Linked DNA regions of Homo sapiens: region 1 is linked to region 2. A link means that fine-mapping ties the variant in region 2 to the expression of a gene that starts in the linked region. Tissue or cell type: whole blood. Region 2 holds a variant in brackets; the other region holds the start of a gene. All regions are shown on one strand. Distances are from middle to middle.

Region 1 (8,348 bases), 47 kb before region 2:
ATGGTGTACATGTATCACATTTTCGTTATCCAGTCTATCACTGATGGGCATTTTGGTTGACTCCATGTCTTTGCTATTATGAATAGTGCTGCAATGAACATACGCTTGCATGTATCTTTATAATAGAATGATTTATATTCCTTGGGTATATACTCAGTAATGGGATTGCTGGGTCAAATGGTATTTCTACCTCTATTTAGATCTTTGAGGAATTACCACACTGCCTTCCACAATGGAGGAACTAATTTATACCCCACCAACAGTATAAAAGCATACCTTTTTCTCTGCAACCTCACCAGCATCTGTTGTTTCTGGGATTTTTAATAATTGCCATTCTGGCTGGCATGAGGTGGTATCTTATTGTGATTTTGCATTTCTCTAATGATCAGTGATGTTGAGCTTTTTTTCATGTTTGTTGGCCATGTGAATGTCTTATTTTGAGAAGTGTCTGTTCCTGTCCTTTGCCCACTTTTTATTTTTTTATTTTTTTGAGACAGTCTCTCTCTGTTGCTCAGGCTGGAGTGCAATGGCGGGGTCTCGATCTCGGCTCACTGCAACCTCCACCTCCCAGGTTCAAGCGATTCCTCTGCCTCAGCCTCCCGAGTAGCTGGGACTACAGGCACACACCACCACACCCAGCTAATTTTTGTATTTTTAGTAGAGATGGGCTTTCACCACGTTGGCCAGGCTGGTCTCAAACTCCTGACCTCAAGCAATCCACCCGCCTCAGCCTCCCAAAGTGCTGGGATTACAGGTGTGAGCCACTGAGCCTGGCTTGACCACTTTGTAATATTTTTTTTCTTGTAAATTTGTTAAAGTTCCTTGCAGACTCTGGATATTAAACCTTTGTCCAATGGATAGATTGCAAAAATGTTCTCCCATTCTCTAGGTTGTCTGTTGACTCTGATGATAGTTTATTTTGCTGTGCAGAAACTCTTTAGTTTAATTAGATCCTACTTGTCAATTTTTGCTTTTGTTGCAATTGCTTCTGGTGCTTTTGTTGTGAAATCTTTGCCTGTGCCTATGTCCTCAATTTTACTGCCTGGATTTTCTTCCAGGGTTTTTATAGTTTTGGGTTTTACACTTAGTCTTTAATCTATATTGAGTTAATTTTTGTATAAGGATTGAGGAAGGGGACCAGTTTCAATTTTCTGCATGTAGCTAGCCAGTTCTCCCAGCACCATTTATTCCCATTGCTTGTTTTTGTCAGGTTTGTCAAAGATCAGATGGTTGCTGGTGTACAGTCCTATTTCTGAGTTCTCTATTCTGTTCCATTGGTCTATGTATCTGTTTTTGTACCAGTACCATGCTATTTGGCTACTGTAGCCTTGTAGTATAGTTTAAAGTCGGGTAGCGTGATGCCTCCAGTTTTGTTCTCTTTTCTTAGGATTGTCTTGGCTATTTGGGTTCTTTTTTGATTCCATATGAATTTTTAAATAGTTTATTCTAATTCTGTGAAGAATGCCAATGGCAGTTTAATGGGAATAGCATTGAATCTATAAATTACTTTGGGCAGTATGGCTATTTTCATGATATTGATTCTTCCTATCCATGAGCATGGAATGTTTTTCCATTTGTTTGTGTCCTCTCTGATTTCCTTAAGCAGTGGTTTGTAGTTCTCCTTGAAGAGGTCCTTCACTTATGGGGTTAATATTTAGAAAATATAAGAAACCCCTACAACTCCAGAACAACAATAAAAAAACACAAATAACTAGATTTAAAAATAGACAAAAGACTTGAATAGGCATTTCTCAAAAGAAGACGATAAATGGTCAAACAGGTGTACAAACATACTCAACATAACTAATCATTAGGAAAATGCAAGTTAAGACTATAATTAGATATTGTATCATACCTGTTAGGATGGCTATTATTTTAAAAGACGGCCGGATGCGGTGGCTCACGCCTGTAATCCCAGCACTTTGGGAGGCTGAGGCGGATCACGAGGTCAGGAGATCGAGACCATCCTGGCTAACAAGGTGAAACCCTGTCTCTACTAAAAATACAAAAAAATTAGCCAGGCATAGTGGCAGGCGCCTGTAGTCCTAGCTACCCGGGAGGCTGAGGCAGGAGAATGGTGGGAACCCGGGAGGCGGAGCTTGCAGTGAGCCAAGATTGTGCCACTGCACTCCAACCTGGGCAACACAGCGAAACTGTGTCTCAAAAAAAAAAAAAAAAAAAAAAAAAAGCTACTCGGGAGGCCGAGGCAGGAGAATGGCGTTAGCTTGGGAGGTGGAGCTTGCAGTGAGCCGAGATTGCGCCACTGCACTCCATCCAGCCTGGGTGACAGAGTGAGACTCCGTCTCAAAAAAACAAAAACAAAAAACAAATAAAAAAAAGTGTTGGTGAGGATGTAGAGATATTGGAGTCCTAGTGCACAGTTGGGGGAATGGAAAGTGGTGCAGGCACTATAGAAAATGTTATGGAGGGCCGGGTGCGGTGGCTCATGCCTGTAATCCCAGCACTTTCGGAGGCCGAGACAGGCGGATCTCGAGGTCAGGAAATCGAGACCATCCTGGCCAACATGGTGAAACCCCGTCTCTACTAAAATACAAAAAATTAGCCGGGCATGGTGGTGCGTGCCTGTAGTCCCAGCTACCCGGGAGGCTGAGGCAGGGGAATCGCTTCAACCCGGGAGCCAAAGGTTGCAGTGAGCTGAGATCGCGCCAGTGCACTCCAGCCTGGAGACAGAGCGAGACTCCGTCTCAAAAAAAACAAACAAACAAACAAACAAAAAAAAACAGTTACAGAGTTTTCTCAAAATATTAAAAATTAAACTACCATCTGATCTAGGAACCCCACTTCTGGGTATTTATCCAAAATAATTAAAATCAGCACCTGGAAGAGCTATTTGCATTCCCATATTCACTGCGGCATTATTCTCAATAGCCAAGATTTGGAAACAACCTGAATGTCCACGGATGATTGGATAAAGAAAATTTGGTATATAAATACAAGGGAATATTATCCAACCTTTAAAAAGAAGGAAATTCTGCCACATATGACAACATAGATAAACCTGGAGGACACTATCCCAAGTAAAATAAGTGAGTCACAGAACAACAAATACTGCACGATCCCACTTCTCTGAGGTATCTAAAATAGTTAAACTAATAGAAAGAGAGAGAATAGTGGTTGCCAGGAGCTAGGGGAGGGGAAATGAGGAGTTGCTACTCAATAGGTATAAAGTTTCAGTTATGCAAGATGAAGATGTTCTAGAGATCTGCTGTACAACATTATGCCTGTAGTTAATAATACTGTATTGTACACTTAAAAATTTGTTAAGTGGGTAAATCTCCTGTTAAATGTTCCTGCCACAGTTAAAGAAAAAGAGAGAAAAAGAGAGTGAGAGAGACAACGATAAGCTATTGAAGGACGCTCAGTGGAAAGTGTGGTGATGTAGGCAGTTTTTATTTTTGCTTAGGATTTTGTTTGCTTGTTTACCAGTATGGTAAGCATTCTGTGAGACCATTCTTGCCTCTCATGTGGTCCTTCGTGTAACCAGGGCTGGATTTGTGCCAGTGTGCAGTGGCATTCTGACTAAATGTTAACGTTTGAGAGGCATGCACAAGGCCTACGGCTGACAATGTCTTCCTTGCTGTTTTGCAACTCCCGACATTTATCACCACTTTGAGTTAAGGTCCATATTCAAGTCAGATTGTTTCCAGATAATCATTGAGGTACTGGCATGTAACACACATTAAATAATCTCATCTGCTAACAGAGAGTAAGTGCATTTTTACATGTTTTAGAGATTAGAATTGGATCCAAATGAGGTGTAACGTAATGGCACCATGAGATCTGTGGTGGGGAAGGGTGATGGGGAGAAAAGCTTCAGCAAAAAGAGGACTAAAGTAGAAATATCAACCGCCAGCTTTCATCTGTGCCTGGGGGCGGTCCTTCCTGTGCTCGTGGCACGTGTTTATACTATGATTGACAACCCTTAAGGAGAAAGGCTAAGGTCATGAAACAAAGCTCTCTTTCCTTTTCTTTTCCCTCCCCCTACCTTTACCCCATTCCTTTCTTTTTCTGTAAAAGCTAGCTGTGATGTGTAAATGTTGCACCTGTCACCCTGACCTCATTGTAGAGCCATCTTCTGAGTAACTGGCAACTGGCAACTGATGCTAAGTGCTATGAATGCAGCTGGTGGGAACTGAACACACCAGTGTAAAAGATGAAACTAGAAGTCCTTATCTGTAAAGTGAGGGTGTCAGGCTAAGCGACCAATAAGCTTTGCTTAAGATTTTATATTTGTGAAGCATTTATATGTAAATACTTTCACTTTTTCCTCTGATCTCTAAGGAAGTGGTGTTAAGTTTGAGTTTGTCATAATTTCACAGGGTGACTCTTAGTTGAAATGTCACTGACAGCTTGCGGTTTGGACTTTTTTTTTTTTTTTTTTTTTTAACTCCAGTCAGAAACAACTAGAAGCCATTAAACAACTACAGGAAGATGCTGTCAACCAGGAAGGCATCCTTAGGAAGAGGCTCCAAGAAACCAGCCAACGGCTGGAGGATGTGGAGGAGCAGGTAGGGTGGCTCATGGCTACATTAGATTCAGGGGACATCTCCTCAGATGCCCTGCAAACCATGAAATAAAAATGGAGGAGGAACAACAACAACAAACAAAAAAAAAAAGCAAAGAGGAACTGCAAGTTCAGTCCCTAGCGACTAACAGTGAGCAGAGGAAGTAAAGGGGGAGTTGTAAGAGAGGCGGTATCAACAGCCTGCTGATGAAAGAGGCGACTCTGCAGAAAGAGGCAACTTGACATATCAGGACTTTAACCGCTGTAGAAATAGCTCAGGCATACCAAGCCCATGCAAACACAGAATTGCAGAAGTTCAGGAGAGGCTTATCACTTCCCTGAGAAGAAAAACACATTTTCAGTTTTGCCTGCATCATAAGAGTGAGCACTCCATTGCTTTCTTTCCTGGCCACACTGCTACAATCCAGCACTAACTATCCATGTCCAGGGTAAGGATCGAGATCGAGAAGCCCACACTGCCAGTGAAAAAGCTACGTCTTTACTGCATAAATTAGAGGAAGCAATTTCGGAACAACGGAACCTTCAAACTATAAATACTGAATTATCGAACACTTGCCAGGCACTTCAGCAGAAGACAAGGAAACTGAAGAGTGAGTAGCAAATATTCATTTATGACCCAGTTTTTGTCCACCCTCAGGCGGGGCATAGGACTACAGACATTTTTCTAGATTACAGCTAGGATATTATTCCTGAGTTTATGACAATGAAATGGTTTGAGAAGGCAATATTGTGGGGCTTTCAGAGAGGTTTGCTGAGTGGCTAGGTGCATGCATGGGTTTAACCATTAACTTCCCTTTTTGCCTTTTTATTATAAGCTGGTTTTGTCTGTGGCTGTTTTTTTCTTTTAAAATTAATTAAAACTTCTCAAAATTTCTAAAAGTAAACAAGGAGAAAAATCTAGTATGCATGGTATATTTGAACTTGCAAGTTGTTATATATTATACTCTGATTTTATTAGCTAGTTTTTTTCCTCTCATATGGTAGAAAAGGCCTTGCTCGTCTATTTTCTTTGGAAATTTTAGGGGGTTGGGCAAAATAATTATGAATTCAGTGTATATCAAAATATCAAATGTGTGAAAATTCTTTTAAAGTTTTAATGCATTCTCTACATACATCTACATACATATTTTGCATTTTAAAAATTGGAATATTTGTCATTTTTCTGTATTACCCAAAAGTATATAAACAGTTACCAGAGATTTATGTGAGAAGACAGTTGTCACATTACAGATGTCAGATTAGCTATAAAATTGTTTCATTCTAGAAACCTAATATGGTAAAAATAAACCTTACTTATTTAGCCATTTATCAGACAATTGCTTTTGTTCAGCCAGTTTCTTGTTCTAGCAGTATAAATATTCTTTTTATAGAAAGTTACTTGGTTTGAGAAATAAACATTGTTTATTTGTTAATTGTTATATAATTATAAATAATTATATATTTAATATATAAGCTTAAGGTAGGCTAGAGATGAAAAATTTCAGACTTGTGTTTGTTTTGGATTTATTGTACCCTTTCTACTATTATCTGAGAAAGCTATTTAGGAGTTTAAGAAATAGTCTAGTTTTAAAATAGCAATGGTTTGCCGGACACAGTGGCTCACCCCTGTAATCCCAGCATTTTGGGAGGCCGAGGTGGGCAGATTGCTTGAGCCCAGGAGTTTGAGACCAGCCTGGACAACATGGTGAAACCCTGTCTCTACAAAAATTACAAACAAATAAATAAATAAAACATTAAAATAGCAGTGGTTATTCAACATATTATTGTCATAATTTTTAAACCTTTATTGAATTTGCCAGTTTTCAATATTCTGATTCACTCTGTTAAGCTAGTAAGGCAGTCTTTAAATTACACAGTCTGTGTGTTATTTTACTACTGCTCAGAGGGCATTGGAGAAGGTTCCCTTGTGATTAGAACTGTTCATGTTGAGACATGAATCATAAGGCATTCCAAAGTTGGTTTAAGGTGTGTCTGCTTTAGACACTGTGCCCAGGACTATTCTTTTGCTCCAGTTTTGCCTTTTGATTAAATCAATATTATACCTGAGTTTTATAAACTACTAAGAATTTGTTCCCCTTCCTCACTGTGATTTTCTTGCAGTATTTTCTTAGAAGAGTCAACTTTAATAACTTACCCCAAAGTGCACGTTCTTGATATTATGAACTTGCTATTGTTGTCTTCCCAGTTTATCTTCACGGCCCAATAGATTCAAATACACTTAAAAGCAGAATATGAAAGCTGCCCTGGGTTGATACGTGTATTTTTTTCTGCCTGGATAACGTAGAGTGGACACTTCCTTTCTGTCTTGAGTTATGCATAACCTGTCCAGATTTATGAAATCCCTTACTTGTTACTTGTATCTTTTGCTGCCCAAAAAACCCATACAAATCAGGATTTTGCTTATATGACCATGTACTTACGATCTTTCTAACAATGCCCTTTAAATTCAATCTTTGAGAGAAGAGGGAAATTTAGATAGCACGTATTTTCAAAATGTTCTATATAGCAGATGTTCCAGATAGACTGCAAACAAATGTCAATGACTGCAGTTATCACACAAACACGTCCACGCACATCCCGCCATGACCACTGCCACCCCATGCTGTTTGATTTCTGAGTCAGACATCTGATTCTGAGTCAGAAAACAAAACATATTTATATCTATTTAGCTTTTCTGAAACTCTCTGGCTAGTTTAATAAATTCACAAAGTATTTCAGACAATTGTTTTCTGATCCATCTAAGTTGCATCAGCACATTGTGTGGGGATGCAGCTGGTTTGTCCAAATGTTCAGATCAATGTGCATAATGTTCACACTACAACTGGAAATTTATATGTGATGTTTGATCAGAAATCCTGAACTTTATCTTGAATAAATGATATTGTTCAAGTTTTCAATTGCCTTCAGGACTGGGCTGATTTATGAGGCAATTCATGTGCATGATATTCTTCAAGAAATGTGCCATGAAAACTGTTCAATTGCTTGAATGGTTACTTATATATTTTATTTCTTCTGCATCTAAACTTTGTTTATATCCAAGTATCTTGTTAATAGACACATGACTGGATTATAATTAGTGTTTGCTTTAAAAAGGAAATTTTTTTTATTATACTTATGTTCTAGGGTACATGTGTACAACGTGCAGGTTTGTTATATATGTATACATGTACCATGTTGGTGTGCTGCACCCATTAACTCGTCATTTACATTAGGTATTTCTCCTAATGCTACACCTCTCCTATCCCCACCCCATGACAGGCCCCAGTGTGTGATGTTCCCCGTCCTGTGTCCAAGTGTTCTCATTGTTCAATTCCCACCTGTGAGTGAGAATATGCAGAGTTTGGTTTTCTGTCCTTGCGATAGTTTGCTCAGAATGATGGTTTCCAGCTTCATCCATGTCGCTACAAAGGACATGAACTCATCTAAAAAGGAAATTTTTAAAAGCTTATAGGATGTGTATATAACATATTAGGGTGAATCTTATGTACAGAAATCATGGACTAATTGATACAATCCAAAACTATCACCCCCTTACTATTCACCATCTCTTGTTCCCATCTGACGTGAAATCTTCATGGAGTCAGTCTTCTCATAGACAATGAGAGAATTACCTTTAAGAATCACAAATTTTTCCTTGAAAAGAGATCCTGGGAAACTCTGATATAGCATAATTTCTTATTTGAACGTAGTATCTGCACATGAACTTCCTAGTTTAGAGGAGACTTTCACCTAGATAATATCACTGCAAACACTCTTTTAGCTTGCTATTCTTAGCATGGAGGGCGGGAGGTATGGCAGAGGT
Region 2 (8,348 bases):
CCTTGAATCTGTGTATCACTTTGGGTACTATAGAGAGCTTAACAAAATCAGGTCTACCAACCCATGAACACAGGGTGTCTTTCCATTTATTTGTGTCTTGTCTTCTTTAATTTTTTTCAGAAATGTTTTGTGGTTTTCGGTGTACATCTCTTTTATCTCCTTTGTTAGGTTTATTCCTCAGTATTTTATTCATTTTGATGCTATTGTAAAGGGAATGGTTTTCTTAATTTCTTTTTTGGAAATTGTTAGTGTGTAGAAAGACAACTAATTTTTTGTGTTAATTTTGTACCCTACAATTTTGTTGAATGTGTATATTAGTTCTAACAGGTTTTTTTGGTGGAATTTTTAGTGTTTACTATGTATGAGATCATATCATCTACAAACAGAAATGATTTGACTTCTTCCTTTCTGATTTGGATAACTTTTCATTATTTTCCTTGCCTAATTGTTCTGGCTAGAACTTCCAGTATTATGTTGAATAATATTGGTGAGAGTGGGCATCTTTGCCTTGTTCCTGACCTTAAAGGAATAAGCTTTCAGTCTTTCACCACTGAGTATAATCGTAGTAGGGTTTTCATATATAACTTTTATTAGGTTAAGGTAATTTTCTCCTATTTCTATTTTTTTAAATTAGCACTTCAGTGACATAGTAAAAATAATGTGTGGTTTTTTGCATCTTTTTGTTAGTATTCCTAGTTTTTGTGTTTTTTAATCATAAAAGTGTGTTCAATCTTATCACATGCTTCTTCTGCATCAGTTGAAATGACTATATGGTTTTTGTCCTCCTTTTTGTTAATGTGGTATATTATATTGATTGGTTTTCATATGTTAAACCACCCTAACATTATAGAAATAAATCCTACTTGTACATGATGTATAATCCTTTTTATGTACTGTTGAATTCAGTCTAGTAGTATTTTGTTGAGAATGTTTACATTAATATTTATCAGAGATATTGGTCTGTAGTTTTTTTTCTTTAATGTCTTTTTCTGGCTTTGGCATTAAGGTAATGTGGACTTCATAGAATGAGCTTGGAAGTATTCCTCTTCAATTTTTGGGAAGAGTTTTATGAAGATTGGCATTAATTCTTTAAATGGTAGAATTCCCCAGTGAAGCCATTCAGTCATGGATTTTTCTTTATTGGGTGATTTTTGATTACTGATTCAATCTTCTTACTAGTTATAGGTCTGTTCAGATTCTCTGTTTCTTCATGGCTTAATCCTGGTTGACCATACTCTGTTTTGCTAACAATTAACATCTGCTCTTTCCTTCCCAACTGGAGGTGGTGGTTTAAACCACTGTAAGAAACTGCATGTCTGACAATTGCCATCCTAGTTGGTTAGCAACTCTCTAACTACAACTTACACATATCTGTCTGTTTCAAAAGTGGTTATCCTTCATTGAGCACCAAATGTGCAACAGGCAGTTGGCATCTCTTACCTATCATATGACAGTATTTCTGGAGAGGATACGTGATTGTCCCCACTGGACAGATAAGGAACAGCAAATCAGAAAGGTTGATTTTTTTTGAACATTTCTAAAATTATGATGCAATTTACAGTCGGTGGTGCCTAATGGTTTTATTGACAGCCTTTTCTTTCTTAATGATATACAAAATCGTTGTATCTCTTATAATTCATGTTGCTTTAGATTTGGGAAAGTTTTAGAAATTTGCTCACAATCACACAGGTAATGAGCAGTGTCATGTCTGCTTCCAAATCTGTTATTCACTTAATCCTGTCTGTACTCTGGTGAGAAGGATGTTCATCAGGAAGGGCATCATATTGTGTAAAGGGCACAGGATTGAGAGGAAAATTCATAAGGCAATGAATGTATATTCACCTAGCCAGCCCAGTCATACCGTCAGAGACATTTTTAATTCCAATATGTTTGGTTACGTTTCTTAAAATTCCAACCTATGCTCCTTATATGATACATTCACCTCTTTTGTAAGCATAATCTCTTTACCATTACCAATTAATTGCAGCCCATCCTATTAGCTGTAGAAGAAAGATGTGGCAAATTTGGGAAGTAAAGAAAAAAGGGATCAAGAATAGACATAAAAGATTTGTGATCACCTGCGTATATCTACCCAGTACCCAAAAAAGATAATAATATATCAGTATCATTCATTATTGATCTTTGCTGCTTCTTTTCATCTTCCACCGAAATAATTGAGATTAGAATGTCATCCACATTTGCAACTTAGTCAGTGTTAGAATCACTCGCTGAATGCTTGTGTTAGATATCTTTTAATATGCTGTTTTCTATACAGTCTTTAACACCTCTGTGTGAAGATGACAACCAGGCACAGGAAATCATTAAGAAGCTGGAGAAGAGTATAAAGTTTCTTAGCCAGTGTGCAGCACGAGTGGCCAGTAGGGCTGAGATGTTGGGAGCCATCAATCAGGTAACCTGTCTTCATTTCTCTAGTTAGAATGAAATTACAAAAAAGATTCACTTTTCCTGAGACTATGGATTTCTCACTTCTAGGAATAAGTTTTAAAAAATACTTTTGTTGTATAAGACATATGCGTTTAATACATATGTGTTTAATACAGAAAAAATGGAATATACAAATAAAAAATGTTAAAAAAATATAATACGATCCAGTGACAATCATAAAATTTTTGTGATATATTCTTCAAGATGTATAGTGTTATAATATAGTGTTTATAATCCCTTATATAGTGTTATAATCTGCTTTTTATTCATCATACAACATAGGTAACTTTCTGTGTGATATAATTATATACTCACATGTCACCATTTTATGGTATTCTACTGGTTGAGTAGATATAAATTATTTAACCAATTCCTTGTATTCAATCATTTCAGGATGTTTTTGGTATTTTTCTGTTATAAACAATGCTCCAGTAAATATCCTTGTATATGCATCTGTGTGTATTTGTCCTTAGAGAAGTAGAATTCCAAAATTTCTTTGTGGGCAAACCTGGGGAGATATGAATTTTTTAAATCTATACCTAAGCAGACTTGTTAAAATATATTTTCTTAAGGAGAAATTTAATTGTGGTAGTAATTTTAGTTTGATCATTTGTTATATACTTTCACACCTTAGTTCCTTTTTAACCCCTCACTAGAGAATACTGTTATTCTTTGTTTCATTTTTACTAAAGTTATATATGCACATAGTTTTTTAAAAGGTCAATCAGCTCTATAAGCCTTACTAATTTCCCGTGATCCAGAGAAACAACTTTCAACTTTTTGTCTTATTTGTTTTGTATTTGCATTCACATTTTTCAATAACATGCTCATGCTGCCATTTAGTGATTTATTTTCAGTTTTAGGTATTATCTGTTGCTCTTCCACTACGAAGACAAATATTTAGTTCTTTTATCAATCTCTGGCCCATCACACCTTTTCACTGTCCCTCAAGCTACTGTTGGCCATCCTGCTTTCCTGGCCAAGCTTATACTCCACAGTTAAACATAGTTTTCACTACCTTGCATGTCCCCTCATCACTTACCCCTTTCTTGCTTTGTCTTACTCATTTGGCGAATCTACAAGTAAATCCGCTTCTCCACCTCTCATGCCTGCATAGCTGGAAAATGTCACATTCCCATGCTGACCTGTTTCTCTTTGAATTCATTATCACAAACCTCAAGCGGGTCCTTGGGGCTTCCCCTCAATCACCCTCCTTCTCTTTTAAATATCAATTTCCCACCCTTTCCTTTCTCCTCAAACCACTGTCATGTCTTTCCCCATATTCTCTCTCAAACACAGGTAATGACTGCTTCCAACCTCACTGAGGAAACTGGGACAATCAAAGGAAACTGCCACAAAGCCTCCCAGCGTGTGAATCCTTACACACTCCCTTGCTCTTGTTCCTAAAGATGCGTTGTCTCTAACCCTATCCAAGGCCAGCCTTCCCCACTGTAGATGGGAGCCTTCCCGACTAATTTACTCAGAGTCATGGGACCAAATTCTCCTGACTTTTCTCCATTTACATTTTCTCCACTCTACTGAACCATTTCTATCAGCACACAAATAATATGTTGTTTTCTAGATGGGAATAATAACACAAAACAAACACAAACAAAATAACTTTTTATCCTTTCTTTTCTGGCCACCACCCTGTTTCTCTGCTCCCATTTACAGCAAACCTCGACAGAATGGTACTCACTGTGTTCAGTCTCCCTCCTCCCACGTTCTCTCCAACCCACTCTGTATCAGCCTTTTGCTTCCACAAAGCAGATTTTTCCAAGGTCACTAGTGACCTCCACATTACCAAATTCAGTTTCTCAGTCCTCATCTGGCATGGCTGATGTCTTCCTCTTCCTGGAAATGCTTTCCTCACTTAGCTTCCAGGCACCATGTCCTCTAGCTTTTCTCTACATCACGGGCTGCTCCTTCTAGGCTTCCTGCAGTTCTACCCCTTCTCCTGGACCTCTGAATATTGAAGAGCCCCAGGACTCCACTCGTGCACATCTGATCTCCATGTGCACGCAATCCCCCTGTGATCCCTTGCAGTCACCTGAGGACTCTCAAATTCATATGTTTAGCCTAACCCACTCCCCTGAGCTCCAGAGCAGAGTATGCTACTGCTGACTCAACAGTTCCACTTGGATGTTTGATAAACTCAAACCTACCATTCAAAACTGACTGTTCATGGTCCCCCCACCAAACCTACCCCATGCATAAGCTCCTTACTTCACTCAAGGGCAGCTCTGTCCTTTTAGTTGCTCAGGCCAAAATAGG[G/A]GCAGAGGGAGCTGGGGTAATTCTCAACACCTTTCTCTCTCACTTCACATTAAATCCTACAGAAAATCCTATTGGCTGAATTGTCAGAATATATTCAGAATTCAACCATTTATTTCCCTTTCTACTGTTACCATCTTGATCTAAGCCTCCATTCTGTTTTGTCCAGATTAATGCAATAGGTTCCTATATGGTCTCCCTGCTTCCATCCAATTCCAATCCCTCCTCCCAACATAGTCTGTTCTTAATAAAGGAGCCAGAGTAATCCTTTTAAAATTAGATTGTGTTACTTTTTGGTTCAGCGTCCTAAAGCTCCTCAGTTTACTTGGGGTAAAACCCAATGTCTTACTGTGGTTTGAAAGGATGTGTGGCCGGGCGCGGTGACTCACGCCTGTAATCCTAGCACCTTGGGAGGCCAAGATGGGCAGATCATGAGGTCAGGAGTTTGAGACCAGCCTGGCCAACGTGGTAAAACCCCGTCTCTACTAAAAATACAAAAATTAGCCAGGTGTGGTGGCACGTGCCTATAATCCCAGCTACTCGGGAGACTGAGGCAGGAGACTCACTTGAACCCGGGAGGCAGAGGTTGCAATGAGCCGAGATCGTGCCATTGCACTCCAGCCTGGGCAACAAGAGTGAGACTCCATCTGAAAAAAAAAAAAAAAAAAAAAAAAATGGGCAAAAGACTTCAATAGACATTTCTTCAAAGAAGATACACAAATGGTCAATAAGCAGGTAAAAAGATATTTAACATCCTTAAATGTATTAGGGAAATACAAATCAAAACCACAATGAGATACCACTTCACACCCACGAGGATGGCTATGGTGAAAGAAGAAAGGAAGTAAGGAAGTTGGAAAGGAAGGAAGGAGGGAGGGAGGAAGCAAAGAAGGAATAGTGTTGGTGAGGATGTGGGGAGATTGCAAACACTGTACGTTGCTGGGAGATGTGAAATGGTCCAGCCACCGTGGAAAACAGTTTGGTGGATCCTTAAAAGTTAAACATAGAATTACCATATGACTCAGCAATTTCATTCCTAGATGTATACCCAGAAGAATTGAAAACAGGCACTCAGATACTTGTACACAAATATTCATAGGACTATGAACATTCCAGATGTTTCACTGGGGTACTCCTAATGTCATTAGTTATAGGACTTTTATCTTAGAATATTAGAATCCCCAGAGAAAAACCTTCCAACTGCCTGCCTTGAGGGTGTAACTCTGGCTGCCAGTGTTTGGAGGCTGGAAGGAGGAATAAGGCTGGATCTCAATATTCAATATGCATATAAGTTGTTGCTTAAATCTGTTGTTTTCAGCATGATAGATCCATCATCAACTATCTGTTCTTTCCCAATCCACAGAACCTCAAGTTAACTCTCTCTAGATATCCAACTGTATGTAGTCTTTCACCAAAATAGTGGAGGGAAAATTGCTGTGCTGGCCACAGTAAGGAAGGAGTCTCTGGACCTAATCTTTTTTTTTTTTTTTACACAGACTTTCAACCATTTCTTCTGTTCACATACCCACCATCAACCTTACTGAGGTGCAGTGTAGGTTGCTTCTAGGCTTTTCTTACTGCCTTTTTTAGGGTTCAGCTTTTCCAGGTCTTAGTCATTTGCCACTAGTCCTTCTATCCAGCTTTCAAAGTCTTGTTGTCATATTCTCTTCTGTTTGCCCCTGTAGATGCATGTCTTTTTAAAAAAAAAACATTTATTGCCACTTTAGTGGGATTTAGGAATGGAGTGAAGGTAAATGTGTTTAATCACCATCTTTTAATTGAGAGTAGTATTTTCAATGTAAATGTGCTCGTTTTTTCTCTTGCTAGGAAAGCCGGGTTAGTAAAGCAGTTGAAGTGATGATTCAGCACGTAGAAAACTTGAAGAGGATGTATGCCAAAGAGCACGCTGAATTAGAAGAACTGAAACAGGTTCTTCTGCAGAATGAAAGGTCTTTCAATCCTCTTGAAGATGATGGTAATAAAAGTTTATGATAATAGTATTAGTTGTGTTTTTCTACATTCTCCTCTTTTTTGCTAAGTCTTATTATTACTTCAGTATAATAAAACTCTTAGGTTAACTTTATATTAGAAAAATAATTCATTCCTGTTATTTATATAGCTAAAAGTGAGGTGTCAGAAAACAGGTTGGGACACATGAAGGATTCTTTAGTAATGACACCAAAAATTTATTAACTCAATTTAGATTACTGAGATGACAGAATATATTTAATCCAACTCATGAAGTTGACCTTAGTGTTCCCCTACTTAGGATACATTAGAATTTCTCCACACGTAAAAAGTAAGGATAAATAATTTAAATGGGCGCTGCCATCAGCAACGGTTTTGATTCCTCACGGAAGGAATGACCCTGGCACAGTAAGCTGATTGATGAACTGGAAAATAGAGAAACATATGAGGCCACGGGGAGTAACATATCGTTTCTATAAATCTTACAATAGTTTTATTTAAAATAAACAATATGAACTTTTCTGAGCAGAATTCTTATTTCAAGAATCTGTTCCCTGTTCTAGAACAGTAACCATATTTGATACTCTTCTGAACTGTACTTTTGGATTCCTTTCTCCAGCAGACACACATGTAGTGCCTACCCTGTGCTAGCTAGGCATTATGGACATCACAGTGACACAGAGGACTGTATTCCATTGGTTAAGATGGTAATTGTTATGAAGAATGAAATGAATGATAAACAGATATTTATATTGCTCGGTAGTCTCTAAAGTCTTAATATCTTCTGAATTTTGCTTTACCTTTAAAGAATTAAGACGTTGCTTTAACATAAATGGCATGTGTAATAGCTAAAATGTGTCAATGTGTTTTTCCTTTCAGATGACTGCCAAATTAAAAAACGTTCAGCTTCTCTAAACTCCAAGGTAATTACTAATTCACTTAACAAATGTCTAGCAAATACTATAAGACGGTTTTAAAATGTTATTTGAAGTTTCAGGCCTTTATATGTAAATAACAAAATAGTGATTTTAATTCATATAGATGTATTTGTTTATCTAAGTATGCTTTTATACTCTCTGCTATATTTTTGTATCAATTAAGTGTGCCTGGCAGCATGAAGAAAGTCAGTACAACAATGGTTTCTCTCTGTTGTGTAAAACTGAAGTTGGAAGTGGGTAACCCGACAATGGCACAGCAGCTTCACAAGATCCTGAGGGATCAGCCTCCTCCTTTCGTGCTGCCTCACTACCCTCAGCCCTTGGCTTCTGCCTCAGAGTCTAAGATGGCTACTTTAGATCCAGGCACCAAGCCCTCATCATTACATCATCTCATTCCAAGAAAAAAAAAGAAGCAATGACAAGTATTCCCTCTCCCTGTAAAGACACCCCCTAGAAGTCCAAAGTAACATTTCTCTTTCCATTCTTTGTTACGAATGAGACTGGAAAATACAGCGTGTATTTGGGAGGCTGTATGCCTAGCTAAAAATCAGGAGGCTTATTACTAACTAAGAAGGAAGAATGTGATACTGAAGGTCAACTGGCAGGTTTTGCCACAGTGTAAAAATCAGGATTTCATAGATATACAGAATTTTTGAATAAGTGACTTTAAAATCATTCCATACAAATCCCTCTTTTTCAGATGAGGGAAGAGAAACACAGAAGTTA

What was found. PIP is the estimated chance that this variant, and not a neighbour inherited with it, causes the effect.
Region 1: it holds the start of IRAG2, and the variant in region 2 is fine-mapped to the expression of IRAG2 in whole blood (INTERVAL, PIP above 0.99).

The regions. Positions count from the first base shown.
Region 1 is chr12:25,047,821-25,056,168 of GRCh38, forward strand. It overlaps IRAG2 (inositol 1,4,5-triphosphate receptor associated 2), which reads left to right and starts at 4,886. Exons shown (of 22, transcript NM_001366544.2): 1 at 4,886-5,136. RefSeq lists enhancers at 4,241-4,350, 4,391-4,760.
Region 2 is chr12:25,094,635-25,102,982 of GRCh38, forward strand. It overlaps IRAG2 (inositol 1,4,5-triphosphate receptor associated 2), which reads left to right. Exons shown (of 22, transcript NM_001366544.2): 15 at 2,276-2,410; 16 at 6,544-6,691; 17 at 7,564-7,607. Among named protein-coding and RNA genes, the nearest start is that of IRAG2, 46 kb to the left of the region's middle. The variant G/A (reference allele first, on the strand shown) is at 4,720.